Linked DNA regions of Homo sapiens: region 1 is linked to region 2. A link means that fine-mapping ties the variant in region 2 to the expression of a gene that starts in the linked region. Tissue or cell type: esophagus mucosa. Region 2 holds a variant in brackets; the other region holds the start of a gene. All regions are shown on one strand. Distances are between the middles of the regions.

The links. PIP is the estimated chance that this variant, and not a neighbour inherited with it, causes the effect.
Region 1: RHBDL3 starts here. The variant in region 2 is the best candidate, but not a certain one, in a credible set for the expression of RHBDL3 in esophagus mucosa (GTEx, PIP 0.73).

Annotation. Positions count from the first base shown.
Region 1 is chr17:32,259,775-32,269,020 of GRCh38, reverse strand. RHBDL3 (rhomboid like 3) reads right to left here and starts at 3,189. Exons shown (of 9, transcript NM_138328.3): 1 at 2,721-3,189; 2 at 1,096-1,119. The coding sequence starts at 2,831. It overlaps LOC105371731 (a long non-coding RNA gene), which reads left to right and starts at 3,570. Exons shown (of 3, transcript XR_934665.2): 1 at 3,570-3,756; 2 at 4,125-4,275.
Region 2 is chr17:32,061,765-32,072,509 of GRCh38, reverse strand. No RefSeq gene overlaps it. Among named protein-coding and RNA genes, the nearest start is that of VILMIR, 16 kb to the left of the region's middle. The variant A/T (reference allele first, on the strand shown) is at 5,404.

The DNA of each region.
Region 1 (9,246 bases), 200 kb before region 2:
ATATGTGGTTCCCCTCACCTACGGTCTATTAAGATCTTCCAATTCTTCCATCACCATGTCCCTCTTCCCGTCCATCCTCACTGTCACCTTCTTGCCTCTGTTCAGTGCTGCAGCTCCTGCCTAGCTTCCCTCATCCCCGTAGCCCATTCACTCCTTATCCCCTAAGACACTGGAGCTTTCCCAAGCCTGGCTTGGATCACATAACAACCCTGCTAAAAAACTTTCTAAGGCTTCCCCTGCCTACAACGAAGTCCTGGTTCAAGCTAATTTTTCAGCTTTATCTCCTTCTCCTACCCAACACATTCCCTCTGGCCCACTCACACCAATTTCTTAAAGTTGCACAAACTTCATGGCACAATCATTCTCACCCCAGGACTATAGCACTCAACTATCCTCCAACATGGGGCAAAGAGGGAGAAGGAAGCACATAACAGCACCCACCACGAATGCTAAGAGGAGAACCATTTCCTTGCTGAAGGTCAAATGTCCATCTCCAGGTTCAAAAGCCAATACTTGGCACCCCCAACTCCATGCCCTACACCTGGACTCCAGGCATTGCGAAGAATCACACACAATTTCCCCTCTGTAACCTCCCAGCACTCCCTCATCCCTATGACAGAATTAAAGACATTGAATTAGACTTCAAAAGAGTCCATACTGTGAGTCAGCCCCCAAGGATGGCAGAGATTTGACTTCAGCGGTGGCCATGGACCCTCCATAGTGGAGGTAGAAACGGAGAGGGATTGTCAGCCCAAGCCCTTCCCCCACCTCTCCAGCCCCCTACTGCAATCCCCTGGCATATGGAGGATTTCCCAGGCATTCAATATATAACGTCCAATTTCTACATGGTGTAAACCCGGCTCTGGTGCAGCAGAGTAGGGAGGAGGCAGGAGGGAGATCCTCTCAGGGGAGCCCATCTCTTCCTCCTGATACCTGGAGAGCAGTGTCGTTCAGCCCTAGAGATGCACAAAGCCACACCCCCACCCCACGTCACCATCTCAGGAGCGCGGAGCTAGGGAAGCCCACGCAAGCAGGGAGACTGAGACCGATTTCAGGGAGGGCTGGAAGGAAATGGGGGGTTAACTGCTCACATACCTGATCAAACAGGACTTTCCAGTGCTGGCAGAGAGGGAGGCCATGCAGGAGAGGAAGAAGAGGAGAGAAAGAAAGACACACTTATCACCAAGGTCTCTGTAGTCCTCGGATGTTTCTGACATAGCCTCCCAGCGGCTGCCCAGGAGTCATGACCAGGCTCAGGGACTGGCCACAGGAGAGCAGGGGAAGTCTGGGAGGAGCTCCCCAATGAGTCCACACTGAGCAGAGGGAGGAAACTCACAGTAAGGGATGGGGTGGGGGCGGGGGCGGCAAGGTGGGTGTTGCTGGTTCTGGAACTGGCAGAACAAGTGATTCTCAACAATTACTAAATAAAGGCGTCCAAATATGTCCAAGCGCCTCTAATAATTTCTGCTGCCTAAAGCTTATGTCCACAGCTACTCCCAGGCCTGGGAGAGCATGGCCAGGTGCAATTCCATCAGACCCCGGCGCAATGAGTCTCACCTGCTGGGAGCTAGAGCCCCCCCCTCCCCCCCCAGGAGAACTCACCTCTGCATAAACACTAACATTTTGCCTGCAGTTTTTTGTTTGTTTGTTCGTTTTTTGTTTTTTTGCGGGGAAGGGGGGGTGGTGAATGCCGAATGCGGTGAAGCCCACCCATTCTCTTCCAAGGCTGAGTCTAAGTGGTGACTACATCAGATTCTGCCAGGGGTTTAGGGCCAGAAGGAAGTGATAGATTTAACCGCAGACGCCAAAGAGAGAAGATCGTAAACTACCCCCCAACCCCATTCAGACTTTCCCGCTTTCGTTGTGTGGGTTGGGGGCCTGGTTTCACTTCCATCTCCCCACCCTGAGGGAGGAGTGGGCAGGGCAGGGTGTCTGCCCGGTTTTTCACCCCTATGTGTAGGTTAGCCCCGGGAGGTTAACCCAAGAAACTCCAGTTCCCAGGGCTTCGCAGGGCCGGCCCGCAGGACCGGAGGGATGGAGACCCGAGCAGCAGACGGCGGGGAAGCCCTCGGGGCAGCCCCTCCCTCTCCTCGCCCAGGGGACCGTCCCCTGGCACCGCCACGGTCTTGGACTCCCGGGCCTCCTTCTAGGAGCAAAGCCGCTCCCAGCACTCTTTGCCTCCCTGCTCCGGCCGGGGTCAGAGGCGGGGGCCGGCTTGAATTTCAATCAGTGTCGCGGCAAGGCAGGTGCCGGGCGGGAGCTAATCCGGGAGCGGAGGAAGGGGTCGCCAGGCCGGCTTGCATGGCCAGGGACGGGGACTCTGCGGCGTCCGCTCCTTCCCCAGCTCCGGGAGCTCGCAGGTCGCGGGCGTGAGGGGAGGGGGAGTCACCGCCGTGACGCGGCCGCCTCTGCGGGAAAACGCCGTGTCCCGGGCACTGCACCAGCGGCGGGGAGGGGGCTCCGGCGGTGACAGGTCCGCGGCGCAGTGGCGGTGCTGTGTCCCGCAGGGAAGCCGCGGGAACCAGAGCGGGGGAAGCGGTGCGCGCGCGTTTCGGGGAGACCGGTCCCTCCGCCCCCTCCTGCCCGCGGGGACCCGGCCAATCCGGGGCGCTCCCGCGTCACCCTGAAACCTCCAAGTTGCCCGGCGTGGGGCGAGACAGGGGCGGCTTTTCCCCCCGGCGCCCCCTAGAAAGTTTGCCGGGCGGGGAGGGGGCACTCACGTCCTCCGGCGCCGCGGGCAGCCGCTCCTCGGCCTCGGGTTCCAGCTCCTCGATGCGCTCCGCCTCGGCGCAGGCGGCCACCGCGGGGCCCGGGCTGGGGTGCTCGCCCATGGCCGAGACGGGGTCCGGGGGCGGCGGCGGCTGCGGGGCTCGTCCCGGGGCGCCGGGCTAACTTTGCGCCGCGGCGGCCGCGCCGCTCCAGGGGCTCAGTGCGCGCCGCGCCGCCTCCGCGCCCGCTCCGCAGCCCGCGCCCGCCCCCATGGCCCCGGTCCCCGCGCCGCCGCCGCCTCCTCGCGACCCCGGGACGCCCGGCCCCTCCGCCGCCAAACTTCACTGCGCTAGCTGCCCCGCCGGCCTCCGCCTCCGCCCCGGCCCTCGCGCCCGGCTCCGAGGCGAGGGCGCCCTTGGGCCGGCCCCGGCCCCGCCGCTCCCCGCGCTCCCTTCCCGCTTCTCGCGGCCCCCGCTCTGCGCCCGAGTCTCCTCCTCCCCGCGGAGTCCTCGGGGGCGGCGCGCGGGCGGGGGCGGGGCTGCTCGCGGGGAACGCCGGCCCCCGCCCCGCACCCCACCCCGGGCGCCGCCACCCGGGCCCAGTCGGTCAGAGCGGCGCGGCCCGGGAGCGGGAGGGCTGCGGCGGGGCTGGCGAGGAAGTGGTGGCGCTGCCCGGGGCGGGGATGGGGACTGCGCCGTCCCCGGCCCGGTCACCACCGGCCTGCACTCCGGGCCCGGGCTTGGCTCTTCCATCGGCTTAACCATCACTTGGAGGTGGCAGATATGTGATGGAGACACTATGTTGGCGACGTCAGGGTTAACTAGGAGTGAATTGGGGGCGCGATGTTGTAAGGACGGGATTCCTGCCTCCCGCCCCATTATCCTTACGCCCTATTCACTGCGGTCTCAGATTCTGGGAGGTCTCGGGAGGCCCAGAAATGGGAGAAGTCAGATTGCGGGGTCGTGGGCCCCAAAGCCTAAATCTTGCCCTTCCTACACCCAGAGCTAAGTGACCATGCCCAGGCTTCATTTGACCACATGGACAAAGGTAAGCCCAGGGAAATGCCCCATCTGGGGAGAGGGACGGTAAAGAAACTAAAGCAATCAGAAAGGAAGTTAGCCAAAACGGAGTAGGGGATCTTTTAAAGAAAACAATCGATGCTGTTTCCCTGCAGGAAAGCGCCCCCAAGAGAGACCATCTCCCGAAGCAGAGGCTCTGGCTGTAAATGGTGCTAGTGGCCGGCCTGGCAGGGGCCAGCTCTCCCCAGAGGCTCAGGAGCTTCTCCAGGAGGCATCTCGCAGTCAGTCCCCAGCCCACACCAAGGCTGTGCCCTTCCACTCCTCTTGCTTTCCTCTTCCCACCACCCACTCACTCACTAGTCTTTGCCCTCTTCCTTCCTCTGGGAAACGGAACAGGCTCCTTTCCATTAGTGAGAGCTGCAACTAATGCAGTCATCTTCAGAAAGCAAAGACATAACCCCGTGCCCAGGATCCGAACTGCGACCATCACCCAGCAATGACTGCTCCCCTTAAACACCGAGAAGGGAATTCACTTGATTCTAATTAGGTGAGTTTGCTACAGACACCAATTTTCATCTCTGTTTCAGAAAGTGTGATCATTTCAACTATTTTTGTTTCTCACCACCCTCCTCCCCATCCCTACTCTACTAACAAGTCAAGATCCTGCCAAGATTTCCTTGTAAATAAAACTGTCTGCATGGGGTGTGATTTTGAAAACAGCCTTCAGGGGACAGAAGAGAGGCTGATTCCTTTGTGAAGAGGAGCCCAGAAGGACAAATGACCGCTGGGGCCCTGGGGTCTGTGTCGCTGCCTCCCGCATCCCAGGCTGTCATTTGCATGACCGGTATGGGTGTTGGCTCTGTTATACTTAGATCTCTGGGACTAGAGAAGTGGGCCAGGAAGTCTGGTTCCAGGGGAACTGGAAGGAGAAGGGCACAGAAAAGGGTTGGCCACTCTGCTGGGATGCCCAGCCACCCTGGACAGTGTTCTGATACCAGCTACCCAGGGAGCTGCCTCTTCATCAGCCCAGGGACAGCTCTTATCAACATATCCAACTCTGTCATCCCTTCGTGGGGAAGGGAGCTTAGCAGGCTCAGTTCTGTTCCTGAACATGTATTAAGCTCCTACTAAGTACCAATGACAGAGCTTTGAGAATACAGAGGTGGATAAGAACCAGACCCTGCCCTCCAGAAATGGATAATTGGGGGTGACAGTCACATTCAACACAAGGGTAAGTCCTGGATTCAAGGGAAGCCCAGAAGGTGTAGAACTCCAAAGGAGGGGGTCGCTGTGGGTCCAGGAAGGCTTCCCAAAGGATAAGCCTCCAGAACTAGGCAACATGGAAAAGGTGAAGGAGGTGTTCCAGGTAGAGGGAACAGCACGACCAGGCTTGTGGAGCAGCATCATATGGGAGGCAAACGACAAGCAGTTTGGCATGGCTGGAAACTGGAGCACGATGACCAATCTAAAGAGCCCAGCCTGGACGGGAAGGTTGTGAGGGGCTGTGAGTTTCATGGGAAAAGAGCTTGGACTTTACCTAAGGGCAATAGGGAGCCATTGAAGGATTGTGAGCAGTAGAGTAATATTTAAAAGATCCCTGGCCAGGCGCGGTGGCTCACGGCTGTAATCCCAGCACTTTGGGAGACCAAGGCGGGCGGATCACGAGGTCAGGAGATCGAGACCGTCCTGGCTAACACGTTGAAACCCTGTCTCTACTAAAAAAATACAAAAAATTAGCCGGGCGTGGTGGTGGGCGCCTGTAATCCCAGCTACTCGGGAGGCTAAGGCAGGAGAATCACTTGACCACAGGAAGCGGAGCTTGCAGTGAGCCGAGATCTGCCACTGCACTCCAGCCTGGGCGACAGAGTGAGACTCCGTCTCAAAACAAACAAAAAAGATCCCTTTGGCTGTAGTGTAGAGTCTAGACAGGAGGGAGGTTGGCCTGAGCAGAGGGCCATGAGAGGTGCTGTCCAAGGAAGAGGTCACAAGGGCGGCAGCAGTTAGAATAAAAGGGAGAGGGAAGATGGGAAACATCCAGAAGGCTATCTTGTTCCTCCTTCTGTCCCTAGGAACATTTACCCCGCCTTGGCAGGCTATGTTTCCAAAAGTCTCCTAAGAAGGAATTCCTGATCTCTCACCAGGATTCTTGCTTCACGGGGCAGCTTCTCTCACCTTGGCCCTTGCTGGGAGGTGATGGTGTCTGGACTTGGAGACTGTTAGGACAAGTTGTTACATCCATCATCCTCCATGAGCCTGAGGCCACCCTTTACCTGTTGTCCTCAATGTCACCTACGCCCAGCTGGTCAGACCACTCTGCCCCTCAGCTCCAGGCGAATCTGCAACCCACTCCCGAGCAGGCAGTAGGACATGGGGCCTGGGGTCCAGGCCTAGAAAGCTCCAGGGGATAGGAGTGGCTAGGCACCCTGACACCTTTTGTTCTACTCTCACCTGAGACAGCCTAAGGACTGGCATATTCTGTGGCATTTTGGGGGCAGAGGAGGGAGTAGGCATGGTGTCACTTTCACTGACCAGCTGCAGCAGGCAGGCACTCGTCGATGCCTGGAGGTGTGCCATGCAGAGGCCCCTCCCTGGGAGAACCTTTGGCGCTAATGAGAAGTGACACGGAACTGGGCCTATTGGCACTTCTTCCTTGCTCTTCATTTTGCAAGTGCGCTACACCATGGCCTCTTTTAAGGTTCCTAACAAGACACTTGAAGTCAACGCAGAGCAGGATGAAGGGCTGGGGAAGGGTGGATCAAACTCGGTTTAGAAGGGCAGGAGCATGATGTTGAGATGAGCCTTGAAAGGGGCAAGCTTGTGGTAGAGAACGTGGAAGGGTTTCTAGGTGGAGGGAACTGCTGCGGCAAAGACACAGAGATAGGAAAGCTGTTGACTGTGTTGGGAACCATGAAGTGGCTGAGCACAAAGTGAGGATGGCCGGGCAGGCGAGGAGCACTGTGTCGCCAGAGTCCCCGAGTGCCAGTCTGAGGAGGTTGGACCTCGCCCAGTGGGAGATAGAGAAGCGGTGATGGCTTCTAACTGGAGCAGCATTTTAGGAAGATTAAGTTGGCGACAGCTCAGCAGTGCCATTCAGCTCACACGTGCTGAGTGTCCATTATGTGCCAGACCCTGGCCGAGGTACTGATAGTACAAAGGGGATGAGACCCGGGCCCTGGCCTCCTGGGGGAAAATGAGGTCATCCTCTAATGACAGTCCAGTGGGATAAGGGGGAGGAGAGAGAGAAGAGCCTTTCCAGGGCTGAGTCTCTCAAATGTGCCCTCCAAGAGAGGAAGGAGTTTTTTTAAGGACCCGATGTTCTGGTCCTGGGAACTGGGACAGTTGGCTGCCATGGAAAAGCCAGGAGTAGCTGCTGGAAGCGGGGAGAGGAAGGCAAAGGGGGCTGAGCAGTTTGTTTGTGGACACCTTGAGCTAATGAGAAGCCAGGGAAGAAACATGAAGGGCTGTAATTATTGCTCAAAGCAATGGCAATGCCCAGAAGGGGGGCAAACAGGGATGACTTTTTCTCCAGAACCTCTTTCACTTGGGGTTCATTCTGACATCTCCCTCTGCCAGACCCACACCCTCCGAGCCCCTTCTCTCTCTGCAGCCAGCTTAAACCTAAACTGACCTTCGTGGCACCCTGTCCCCACCTGTAGCTCTAATCTTCTGAGAAACCAGCCCTGAGCTACCACTGTTTGCCTTCCTGAGATGAAGACGTAAGTTATTTTTGACTGAGATCCAAGTCCCGGCCCTGAATTCTTTTGTCTTCCGGGAATCCCCCAGCCGTGTTTGAAGTCTGCAAGTCCAAACAGCAGACATGGCTCAGGATGGCAGAATCCGACCACCCTCCACCTCCATCTCCAGCATTCTTCCATCATCGCCCGCTGTCTGCCAGATCAAACGGAGCAAGACTGCTACATGGATTTCTTTCCCTTTCGTCTCTTCCTTTCACTCCAGGGCTCCCAGTTTTCTGAGTAACTTAAATCATTACTGAGAGATGTGTAGGTTCACAGACCAAACCCTTTCAAAGCAAGGCGTGGGCACCCAGAAGTTGAGCTCAGAAAAGCACAGAAAAAAACTTTCCCAGTCCCAAGATTTAGCCAGTCACACATTCAGGGAAACAATCAGCTACTTTGCCAGGTCTTACCTTCCTTTCCTGCCACCTCCTTGGGGCCTGGCTGGTCCCCAGGGTCCCATTTCTGAATTCTCATTGGGCCTCAAGACTTCCATATGACCTTCACTGTGCTATAGGCAGGTCCTGTGTCTTCAGTAAACCACCTGTTCTATCTTACCCATCAGCCAGTCACAGTGGCTCACACCTATAATCCCAGCACTTTGGGAGGCCAAGGTGGGAGGATCACTTGAGTCCAGGAGTTCAAAACCAGCCTGGGCAACATAGCAAGACCCTGCCTCTACAAAAAAATTTAAAACCGGCCGGGCGCGGTGGCTCACGCCTGTAATCCCAGCACTTTGGGAGGCCAAGGCGGGCAGATCACGAGGTCAGGAGATCGAGGCCATCCTGGCTAACACGGTGAAACCCTGTCTCTATTAAAAATATAAAACATTTGCCGGGCCTGGTGGCGGGCACTTGTAGTCCCAGCTACTCGGGAGGCTGAGGCGAGAGAATGGCGTGAACCAGTGGGGCAGAGCCTGCAGTGAGCCGAGATCACGCCACTGCACTCCAGCCTGGGCGACAGAGCGAGACTCCGTCTCACAAAAAAAAAAAAAAAAAAAAAAATTAAAACCTAGCCAGGTGTGGTGGCATGGGACCTGTAGTCCTAGCTACTTGGGAGGCTGAGGTGGGAGGATCCCTTAAAATAAAGGAGAGAATCTTGCCCATCTCTCTGACGAATGCTCTCTCCTCCACAAAGCCTTTCCTCAACTCTCCAACCCAAATGAACCACTCCTTCCTCTGAATCCCTTTTTCCTTTTGACTTTGAATTATATCTTCTAAGTTTTATCTTCCTGATACTAGAACGTACATTCCTTGAAGGGGAGGATTATGGCTTATTCAATTCTGCATCCTTCGCAATGCACAACATTGCACACTGTAGAAACTGAACAAATGTCTGTTTAATGAAAAAAAGGGGATGCCTCTCTTGATATGACACAAAGTCTAATTATATAGTTATTACTCTCAACCTGCAACAAGAGACAACTTTTATGTTATGGAGAAAAAAATTCTTCTGCATAATAATAATGCGCCTGTATGCCTGCTGCCTTTATTTCAAAATACTTCCGCATTTGCCATTGCATTTCATCCTCAAAAAGCAAGCCTTTCTGAGGTGAGCAGAACAGATACAATTGCCTCCATTTTATAAATGGGGACACTAAAATCCCTGGGCCCCGGGGAGGTTTGATTCTCCATGCCTGTCACCAAAGTTCTTATTTAAAGAGTGAAATACAAAAGCCCCTGATGGTAGTGAGTGCCCTTGGCCCCGACCGCTGACCACTGTCTGCAGAGACTGCTTTCCCAGGGCAACTGGACCAGGCTGAATCCCAGCGCACAAATAGGGCT
Region 2 (10,745 bases):
ACCTCAGCCTCCGAGTAGCTGGGACTACAGGTGGACACCACCACGCCCGGCTAATTTTTGTATTTTTTTTTTTTTTTTTAGTAGAGATGAGGTTTCACTGGTGAGGCTGGTCTTGAACTCCTGACCTCAAGTGATCCACCTGACTTGGCCTGAGACAGGAGAATCGCTGGAACTTGGGAGGCAGAAGTTGCAGTGAGCCAAGATTGCCCCACTACATCATTCCAGCCTGGGTGACAGAGTGAGACCTTGTCTCAAAAAAAAAAAAAAAGAAAGTGAAAGATTTCATTCTGAACACCACTAGGCCCTGAGAGGCAAGGTTGGCTGACAGCAGACCCAGTGCAATGAGAACCATCTGACCCCCGGATTTGTTTCCTTCCTGTGGCCGCTATAACAGTACCACAAACTGAGTCACTTAAAACAACAGAAACCTATTTTCTCACAGTTCTACAGGCCAGAAGTCTGAAATCAAAGCATCTGCAGGGCCACGCTCCCCACAGAGGATCTAGGGAAGAATCCCTCCTGGCCCCTTCCAGCTTGTGAGGGCTCCAGGCGTTCCTCGGTGGCAACCACAGCCTTCCAACCTCTGCTTCCGTCTTCACAGGTCCTTCTCTACTGTGTCTCCTCTATGTGTCTCTCCTAAGGAGAGTCGTCTGTGGATTTAGGACTACCATGTTTTCCAGGATGATCTCATCTTGAGAATTCTAATATCTGCAATGACCCTTTCAAAATCCCTCCTACAGAGTTGACAAGGATTGCATGCTAGATTCCAGACAGAAATACAGTTACAATGAACCATGAATCGGGCTGCACTAGGGCCCCCTTCCTTGCTGCTAAAAGTCAGGTAGCACTTTTACACCCCATTGTTTCACCGGGCGCAGTGGCTCACGCCTGTAATCCCAGCACTTTGGGAGGCCAAGGCGGGTGGATCACCTGAGGTTGGGAGTTCGAGACCAGCCTGACCAACATGGAGAAACCCCATCTCTACCAAAGATACAAAAATTAGCCAGGCATGGTGGTGCATGCCTGTAAGCCCAGCTACTGGGGAGGCTGAGGCAGGAGAATCGCTTGATCCCAGGAGGCAGAGGTTGCAGTGAGCCGAGATCGCGCCATTGCACTCCAGCCTGGGCATCAGGAGCGAAATTCTGTCTCAAAACAAAACAAAACACAAATACATCCCATTGTTTCTACAGACAGGATCTCTGACATTAGGAGCATATGGCTTTTTTTTTTTTTTTTTTTTTTTTTTTTTTTTTTTTTTTTTTGAGATGGAGTCTTGCTCTGTCACCCAGGCTGGAGTGCATTGATGTGATCTCAGCTCACTGTAACCGCTGCCTCCCGGGTTCCAGCGATTCTCCTGCCTCAGCCTCCAGAGTAGCCGGGATTACAGGCGTGCACCACCACGCCTGGCTAATTTTTGCATTTTTAGTAAAGAAGGGGTTTTACCATGTTGGCCAGGCTGATCTTGAACTCCTGACCTCAAGTGATCCACCCGCCTCGGCCTCCAAGTGCTGGTGTTACAGGCGTGAGCCACTGCGCCCAGTCAGGATCATATGGCTTTTGCTTAAGGATCACTTCAGATGTTTTTGCAGATCTTGAATTCCAGCAACCAGTCTGAAGAAGACCCCGCATATAGGAATGGGATCAGCATGAGAATACAGCTTCTTCACCCACCCCTTGTCCCTCAACTCCCGCCCAATCCTCTGTCCCAAGACTTCACCTTGCACTCTTTGACCAATCAAAGGATCTCCACACTTGGGCCCACTCCATACCCCTTAAAAACCCCAGCCCCAAATTCCTCGGGGAGATGAATTTTTAAATTTTATTTCATTTTTATTTATAAATTTTTGTTTGTTTGTTTTCTGAGAGAGTCTCACTCTGTCACCCAGGCTGGAGTGCAGAGGTGCGATCTTGGCTCACTACCACCTTCATCTCCCAGGTTCAACTGATTCTCCCACCTCAGCCTCCCAAGTAGCTGGGACTACAGGCATGCACCACCACGCCCGGCTAATTTTTGTATTTTTAGTAGAGACAGGGTTTTGCCATGTTGGCCAGGCTGGTCTCAAACTCCTGGCCTCAAGTGATCTGCCCACCTCAGCCTCCTAAAGTGCTGGGATTACAGGTGTGAGCCACCACACCCACCCAGGAGATGGATTTTAGATTTGCTCCCATCTCCTCGATCTGTGGCCCTATGATTAAACCTCCTTCTCTGCTGCAAACTGGTATCTCAGCATGTTGACTTGCCCAGTGCCTCAAACAATGGGCCTATGACAGTTACAGTTTATCCACCTAAGATCACATTCAGGCCAGGCGCAGTGGCTCGCGCCTGTAATCCCAGCACTTTGGGAGTCCGAGGTGGGAGGCTCTCTCGAGGCCAGGACTTTGAGACCAGCCCGGGAAACATAGCAAGAATCTCTCTCTGCAAAAAATACAAAAATTAGCCAGGCATGGTGTTGCATGCCTGTGGTCCCAGCTACTTGGAAGGCTGAGGTGAGAAGATCACTTGAGCCTGGGAGGTCCAGGCTGCAGTGAGCCGAAATCATGCCATTGCTCTCTAGCCACGCTGAGTGACAGAGCAAGACCATGTCTTTAAAAAAAAAAAATAAGTTGGCCAGGCGTGGTGGCTCATGCCTGTAATCCCAGCACTTTGGGAGGCCGAGGCAGGCGGATCATCTGAGATCAGGAGTTTGAGACCAGCCTGGCCAACATGGGGAAAGCCCGTCTCTCCTAAAAACACAAAAATTAGGGGACGTGGTGGCAGGCGCCTGTAATCCCAGCTACTCAGGAGGCTGAGGCAGGAGAATCACTTGAACCTGGGAGGCGGAGGTTGCAGCGAGCCTTGATTGCGCCATTGCACTCCAGTTGGGAGACAAGAGCAAGACTTCATCTCAAAAAAAAAAAAAAAAGTGAATATAATAACATCACGTTCACAGGTTGCAGGGGCCAGAATGTGGACACATCCTTTTTGGGGGCCACCATTTGACACACTATATTCCCTCCTGGAGCTGCAGCCCTGGCCGTGAAAGGAAAGGAGAGGAAAGCAAGAAGGAAGGGGCCCCTGCACTACCCAGACCCCCAGAACATGATGCTGGTGGGGATGGAGGAGAGGCAGAAGGAAATAGGATTGAAGTCTAAATCAAGGCCCCAGCCTGGGTCTGGACATTCCTTGTTTTGAATTGAAGCCAAGCTGCCCTGTGACTAAGGCAACTCCAGGAACATCTGTTATCTGAGATGAACAGAGAACAAAGTCATAAAGCTAAGATTTTATCAAGGGGATTGTGGGGCAGGGGGGACACGTTTCCCTGTGAAAAGCACGTTATAGAGATCATGAGAGATCAGCCCTTGACTGAATTCACACAATGCTGGTTCATTTCATCACAGGGACCACCTGACCCCCAGGATTGTTCTAGAAGGTCTTTTTCTCTAACATCTCCACACCAATCCCTCTCCACCTGCCGCTCCCACCTTCCACTGGGTCCCCATCCTCCTCTGGGCTGGGGCCCTGCCTGCCTGCCATCCATTCACTCAACAAACACTTATTATTATTTTTTGAAACACAGTCTCGCTCTGATGCCCATGCTGGAGTGCAGTGGCATGATCACTGCTCACTGCAGCCTCTGCCTCCCAGGTTTAAGCAATTCTCATTTCTCAGCCTCTCGAGTAGTTGGGATTACAGGCATGCATCACCACACCTGGATAATTTTTGTATTTTTAGTAAAGACGGGGTTTTGCCATGTTGGCCAGGCTGGTCTTGAACTCCTGGGCTCAAATCTGTCCGCTCGGCCTCTCAAAGTGCTGGTAGTTACAGGCGTGAGCCACTGCGCCCAGCCCTAACACTTATTGAGCACCTGCTGTATGCCAAGGGCCAGGGAAGGGGGCAGCATACAGAGCCAGGAGAGAACAGTGTGGAGGAACTTCCCTTTTGGAGCTGACTTTCCAGTGGGAGACCTGGGCGATGACAAGATGAACAAGGAGTGAATATTCTGTGGTGTAGCCAAAAGTAGCCAGTGCAATGGAGAAAATACAGCAGCCTCAGGCCTGTAATCCCAGCACTTTGGTAGGCCGAGGCGGGCGGATCACTTGAGGCTAGGAGTTCAAAACCAGCCTGGTCAGCATGGCAAAACCCCGTCTCTACTAAAAATACAAAAATTAGCCAGGTGTCATGGAGCATGCCTGTAATCCCAGCTACTGAGTAGACTGAGGCAGGAGAATCACTTGAACTCGGAGGTGGAGGTTGCAGTGAGCTGAGAGCACACCACTGCACTCCAGCCTGAGCAACACAGCGAGACCCTGTCTCAAAAAAAAAAAAAAAAAGCAGCAATAAGAGTCTGTGGATGTTGTAAATTGGGTGTGTGTGCATCAGAGAAGGCTTCCCTGGGGAGGGGCACAAGTGAAGGGAGACCTGGAGGAGGTGAGGGAGGAGCCATGTGGATATCTGGGGGAGGATGACTCAGGCAGAGGGAACAGCCTGTGCAAAGGCCCTGAGGCAGGATGTCTTTGGTGAGTTTGGAGAACAGTAAGGAGGCCCATCTGCTTGGAGAAAGCTGGGTTTTCTGGCCTCCGTGAGGACTGGAGTTTTGCTCTGAGTGAGGCAGTTGGTAAGGAGAATAATGCCCTCCTTCCCAAGATGTCTACTTCCTCATCCTAAACTTTCAAGATCTCGTGGCCTGGGGAGGATAGGAGAAAGGGGCTGGTAACTGCTCCAGCGGGTTGATAAATATGGGTACTTCAGGGAGGCTTCCTGGAGGAGTGTCAAGCATATGACTGGCTTGAATTGCGGGAGAGGCAGGCTGAGCAGGGAGCAGGTGCCCAGGGAGAGGCAGAGGACAGGTGAAACACTTAAAAGTGTCTAAAGGAGAAAGAGTCCTTTGGACACAGCCAGGCCCTGAGAAGCAAGGTTAGTGAATTGCTACCTCATGCAACAAAAGGGACTTTGCTGATTAGGTAATTAAGGACCTTCAGACAGGGAAATGACCTTGGATCATCTAATCACACAAGTCCTTAAAGTGCAAGGGGGCGGCAGAGGGGAGTTGAAGGCTGTCATATGAGAAGGACTTGACTCGTCATTGCTGGCTTTGAAAATGGAGGGAGGGCCCACGAGCCAAGGAATGCAGGCAACTTCTAGAAACGGGGAACAGACAACCAGCAAGAAAACAGGGGCCTCAGTTCTACAATCCCGAGGAACTGAATCTTGCACCCCTAAATGAGCAAGAAATAGATCGTCCCCTAAAACCTCCAAGAAAGGACTGCAGCCTGCTGACATCTTGGTCTTAGGCAGGTGAGACCCGAACCACATCTCTGACCTCTAGAGCTGTAGGATAATTTGCGTCGTTAAAAAAACGCTAGCTTGTGACGGCAACCATGGGAAATTAACACAAGTTGGGAGCCTTCCGGGTTCTGAGCGGG[A/T]GGAGGGGGCGTGGCCTGATCAGGTGTTCGCTCGCGCCCTCTGGAGGCTGCGGAGGGAACAGGCTTCAGGGCCAGGCTGGAGACCTGAGCAAGGGTAGAGGGAACTGCACAGTCCAGGTGAGGGATGCTGGGCTGGACCAGGTGAGGGCCGGGGAGGTGGGGAAGAAATGAAGTCCGAGGTTTGAACGTGGATGGAAAGAGAAAAAAAGAGAGAACTCCAGCGGGGCGCGGTGGCTCACGCCTGTAATCCCAGCACTTTGGGAGGCCAAGGTGGGAGAATCACTTGAGGTCAGGAGTTCGAGACCAGCCTGGCCAACACAGTGAAACCCCGTCTGTACCAAAAATACAAAAAATAGCCAGGCGTGGTGCTGCACGCCTCTAGTCCCAGCTACTCGGGAGGCTGAGACAGCAGACTTGCTCGAACCCGGGAGGCGGAGGTTGCAGTGAGCCAAGACTATGCCATTGCACTCTAGCCTGGGCGACAGAGTAAGACTCCATCTAAAAAAAAAAAGAGAGAGAGGACTCCAGTCAAGGATGACCAGAAGCCTCTGAGCTGGGAACTTGGAGTCTCCCATTCCCTCCACCCCAACTCCACTAGTCCCTACCTCCCCTTGGCCTCACCTGCTAGCAGTTGTCCCAGGCGGAGGCCACATGCTTCCCTCTCCTCTGAGGCCTTGCCCCTGCCTGTGACCTCTCACTTGTCACATCTGCTGTCTCTGTTCTCAAGACAGGAAGTCAGATGGGAGTTGAAGACGGCTGGGACCTATGAGTCCCCAGGCCCCCAGAGGGATTCCGGATTTGAGAGTCGGCCTCCTCCCTCCCATCCAAGCCCAGCCCTGCCAAATCAGCTCCCAGCGCACTCCCTGGTCTGCACTTCTTTCTCTGTCTCTTTCTCTCTCTGGAATTTTCATTCTCTTTTTGGTAACCGAATTATCCCATCTCCGCCTCTCACTGGGGGCCACCCACAGAGGCGTGGGAGAGGAGGGGCCCAGGTCGCAGCGCGAGATATTAAACCATCAATCACCCGCCAACGCCGACTCCCCCGCACCAGGACCCTCCGTTGGCTCCACCTGGAAGCAGACCAGCTCCAGTGCAGGCCTGGAGGCCTGGGGACCCCATCAAAATGGGAGGCCTTGGAAGAATCTCACAGGCCCTGCATCCACCTGGGCAGGTGCCTGGGTGCAGATCGGCCTGGCTCAATGCACAGAAAGGTGTCCTGGGTTCAAATCTACAAGCTACTTCTTATCCACACATGGGAGCCACTGCATTGCTCTGTGTCTTGGTTTCTCCACCTGTAAAATGGTGATAACAGCCGGGCACGGTGGCTCACGCCTGTAATCCCAGCACTTTGGGAGGCTGAGGCGGGCAGATCACCTGAGGTCAGGACTTCGAGACCAGCCTGGCCAACATGGCAAAACTCCATCTCTACTAAAAATATAAAAATTAGCCAGGTGTGGTGGCGTGCCCCTGTAATGCCAGCTACTTGGAAGGCTGAAGCAGGAGAATCACCTGAACCCAGGAGTCAGAAGTTGCAGTGAACCGAGATTGTACTACCACACTCCAGCCTGGGGGACAGAGCGAGACTCTGTATTAAAAAAAAAAAAATGGTGGTAACATTTTCTACATCACTGGGGTTCACTGTCAGGATTAAACCAGTTAAGGCAGATGGCAATATCTGGCTGATAGTAACTCCTGTCTAGGATTTGCTGCTAGAATGATTTTCCTTTAAGATTGGGGGGGTCATTCACTTGTGAAGGAAATCCAAGATTCTTGGCTTTTGGGGGGACTTAATGGGGTTCATACTTGTGTCACCTCACAGCTGCTGCCTTGTATAGGTTGGAATTGGATTTTTTTTTTTTTTTTTTGAGATGGAGTCTTGCTCTGTCGCCCAGGCTAGAGTGCAGTGCACGATCTCGGCTCACTGCAACCTCCGCCTCCCAGGTTCAAGGAATTCTCCTGCCTCAGCCTCCTGAGTAGCTGGGACTACAGGCACATGCCACCACACCCAGCTAATTTTTTTTTATTTTTAGTAGAGACGGGGTTTCACCATCTTGGCCAGGCTGGTCTCGAACTCCTGACCTTGTGATCCAGCTGCCTCGGCCTCCCAAAGTGCTAGGATTACAGGCATGAGCCACTGCGCCTGGCCGGAATTGGATTTTTTTGTTTTTTGTTTTTGAGACAAAGTCTTGCTCTGTCACCCAGGCTGAAGTGCCGTGTGGTATGATCATGGCTCATTGCAGCCTCAACCTTCTGGACTTAAGTGATCCTCCCACCTCAGCCTCTTGAGTAGTTAGGATCACAGGCATGAGCCGCCACACCCAGGTCTAGGGGAAAAAAAATTAAAGGCTCTTTCAGAACCTTAACTAGGGCCAAGCAACCCATATTTCAAGGCGCTCAATTCACAAAACAAGGTCTCAGTGCTTTGCACAGGCTGTTCCCCCTGCCTAAAATGCTGTTCCCTCAGCCAGCCACGTGACTCCTCCTTGCCTGCTTCTGGGTTTGCTGCAATGTCACCTCCTCAGTGAGGTCACTTTGTAAAAATTGCACCCAGGGCCCCTGCCCGCCCCCACCCCTCCCAGCTGTATGTCCCTCCATAGCATGCACCCCATTTTGCATACCGTATGCAGTGCTTGTGGGGTTTGCCTGTTCATCCCACTGGAGTGTTAACCCCAGAGCAAGGTTCATTCATTCACTGCCCAGCATGGCACCTGGCATGAAATAAACACCCAGTAAATACTTGTTGAGTGAAAGCATGAACAAATTCCATTCAGCTGCTCCCAGAGGACCCCACAGGCTGCAGCCAGCTCAAAGCTGCTGTAGCTGGGCCTGTCAGCAATCTTGGGTTTCCTGGAGGGGGGTGGAGGGGGTATCACTGGATGTGTTCAGAGATGCAGCTGGTTCACTGTCAACTTTGTGTGGACTTTTCTTTTTTTTTTGAGGCTGGATCTCACTCTGTCACACAGGCTGGTGTGCAGTGGCGTGATCACAGCTCACTGCAGCCTCCACTCCAGCTATCCTCCCACCTCAGCCCCCTGAGTAGCTGGGACCACAGTTGTGCGCCACCATGCCTGGGTAATTTTTGTATTTTTCATAGAGACAGGGATTCACCATGTTGCCCAAGCTGGTCTTGAACTCCTGAGCTCAAGCAATCTGCCTGCCTAGGCCTCTCAAAGCAGTGGGATTACAGGCGTGAGCCACAACGCCCGGCCAGGATGTTTATTTTGTCATTATTTATTTATTGTAGAGATGGTGGTCTCCCTATGCTGCTTAGGCTGGTCTTCAGGTCCTGGGCGATCCTTCCGTCTTGGCCTCCCAAAGTGCTGGGATTACAGGCATGAGCCATGGTGCCCGGCCTTGTGTAGATCTTTAAAAGGTACCCCTTCCTTGCTGGGTGCCGTGGCTCATGCCTGTAATCCCAACACTTTGGGAGGCTGAGGTGGGCAGCTCACCTGAGGTCAGGAGTTCGAGACCAGCCTGGCCAACATGGTGAAACCTCGTCTCTATTAAAAATACAAAAATTAGCTGGGCGTGGTGGCGGGTGCCTGTAATCTCAGCTACTGGGGAGGCTGAGGCAGGAGAATTTCTGGAACCTGGGAGGCAGAGGTTTCAGTGAGCTGAGATCGTGCCATTGCACTCCAGCCCAGGCAATAACAGTGAGACTCCATCTCAAAAAATAAAATAAATAAAATAAAATAAAATAAAATAAAAGGTACCTCTTCCTCTGGGCAGATGCAATGTGTGGTGAGGGGAACAGATGATGTTAGCTTCTGCTCTAGCCTCTGTCTGGCATGCTTGTGCAGTGCGCAACTTGCACAACTGTTCTTGGCAGTACTGCTACTGTCCCCCATCTCTTGAGTAGCTCAGAAGGTGGGGGGCGCTGTGAAGACCAAGTAACCAGAGGCTGGACCTCTACACCCAGGTGTTTAGAGGGCCAAACCCCAACCTCTGTGCCCAGCTCATTGCTGGTGAAAAATCTGCCAAGGAACTGGACTGTTCTGGTGACACCCCAAAGACTCCCCTCCTGGTATCCCCAGCAGTGTCTCCCTTGCTCCTCCGGACTAGTGGTGCGGTGCCCTCGCCTTCCCCAGCCCCCTCTGCACGTTTCCACCCAGCCAGGAGTCCCACACTTGCCTGCTTCTCCCAACTCTCTCTCTCTCTCTCTCTCTCTCTCTCTCTCTCTCTCTCTCTCTCTCTCTCTCTCCAGCACAGTGGCTATTTTTATTTTTCCTTCTTATTAAATTTCCAACTTCTGCAAACACCATGGCCTCTGCCTCGCCGCGCCCCCCCACCTTCCCTTAGGGCGGATTTGATTCACTTGCGTTTTATTAACAGATTAAAAAAAAAAAAAACCCGCAGCTGCCACCACAATGTGACTTTCTCCGCTTTCCTGGAGGTTTAGGGAACTGGGCTACAGGATCCCCTCCGGGTTTAAATTTGCCCTCCTCCCCACTCCCAGGGACCTTCCCATCACAGCCTGAGCGGCGAGGTCGGGAAGGGGCTGGGGAGTGAGGTTGGATCTCGTTCTGGGTTTAGGGGGGACTGGGATGGGTGTCAGGCCTGATGCGGTTCCCCCAGCCAGGGACTCGTCCCAAGGCGGAACTGGAAATTAAAAAAAAAAAAAAAAAAAAAGCAATCCGTTGGGAAGCCCCGCCCCCGCCTCGCCCCCCACCCCAGACCCTGGGTGCTAAACGCTTCGGGTGGGAGGGGCAGCCTCGGGGGTGGGGGCTTAGAGTTGGCGCCTCCCACACAGAGCTGGGGTCGCCCCTACCCTCTCTCTCTTAGGATGGCTGGCAGGGGGCCTTGGGAAGGTTTGCCACCTACCCAAGCCCGGCTCGCTCAGTTTTCTTTCCTCCTTAGGACATTCTGATTCCGGTGCTGACTCCCAGACCTGAGAGCAAATTGCTTCTTCATGCCCCGGGGTGTTTTCCTCCCCTCAAGTCTTTTTTTTTTTGTCAGTCGCCATGGCAACCAAGAACCCAGCTGCACTATACTTCCCTGGGATACAGGATGGGGGTAGGGGGTGATGGCGAAACTAACTGGGTCGTTTAGGCCAGGACCTTCCTACCCTCCTCTTTGCCCCCTCTCTTAGTCCTCCACCCCTTCCCCACACCACCTGGTCCAGCCTTGATTGACAAGAGGGCAGGTTGCGCCTGTCGGGGTTACCCATCTTGGTGGTTGGGCCACAGCTTCCTTCTGGGTCACTCTGTTCTGGGAAGGTCCTTCATTTGGCCCGAGGACTAAGGCTCCAGCTGTCAGTGAAATCCCTTTCCCCTTCCTTTCCTCCACTCTTTAGTCCCTCAGTCAGGGTGGGCTGGTACGGTTGGGCAGGTTGGACACTGCAC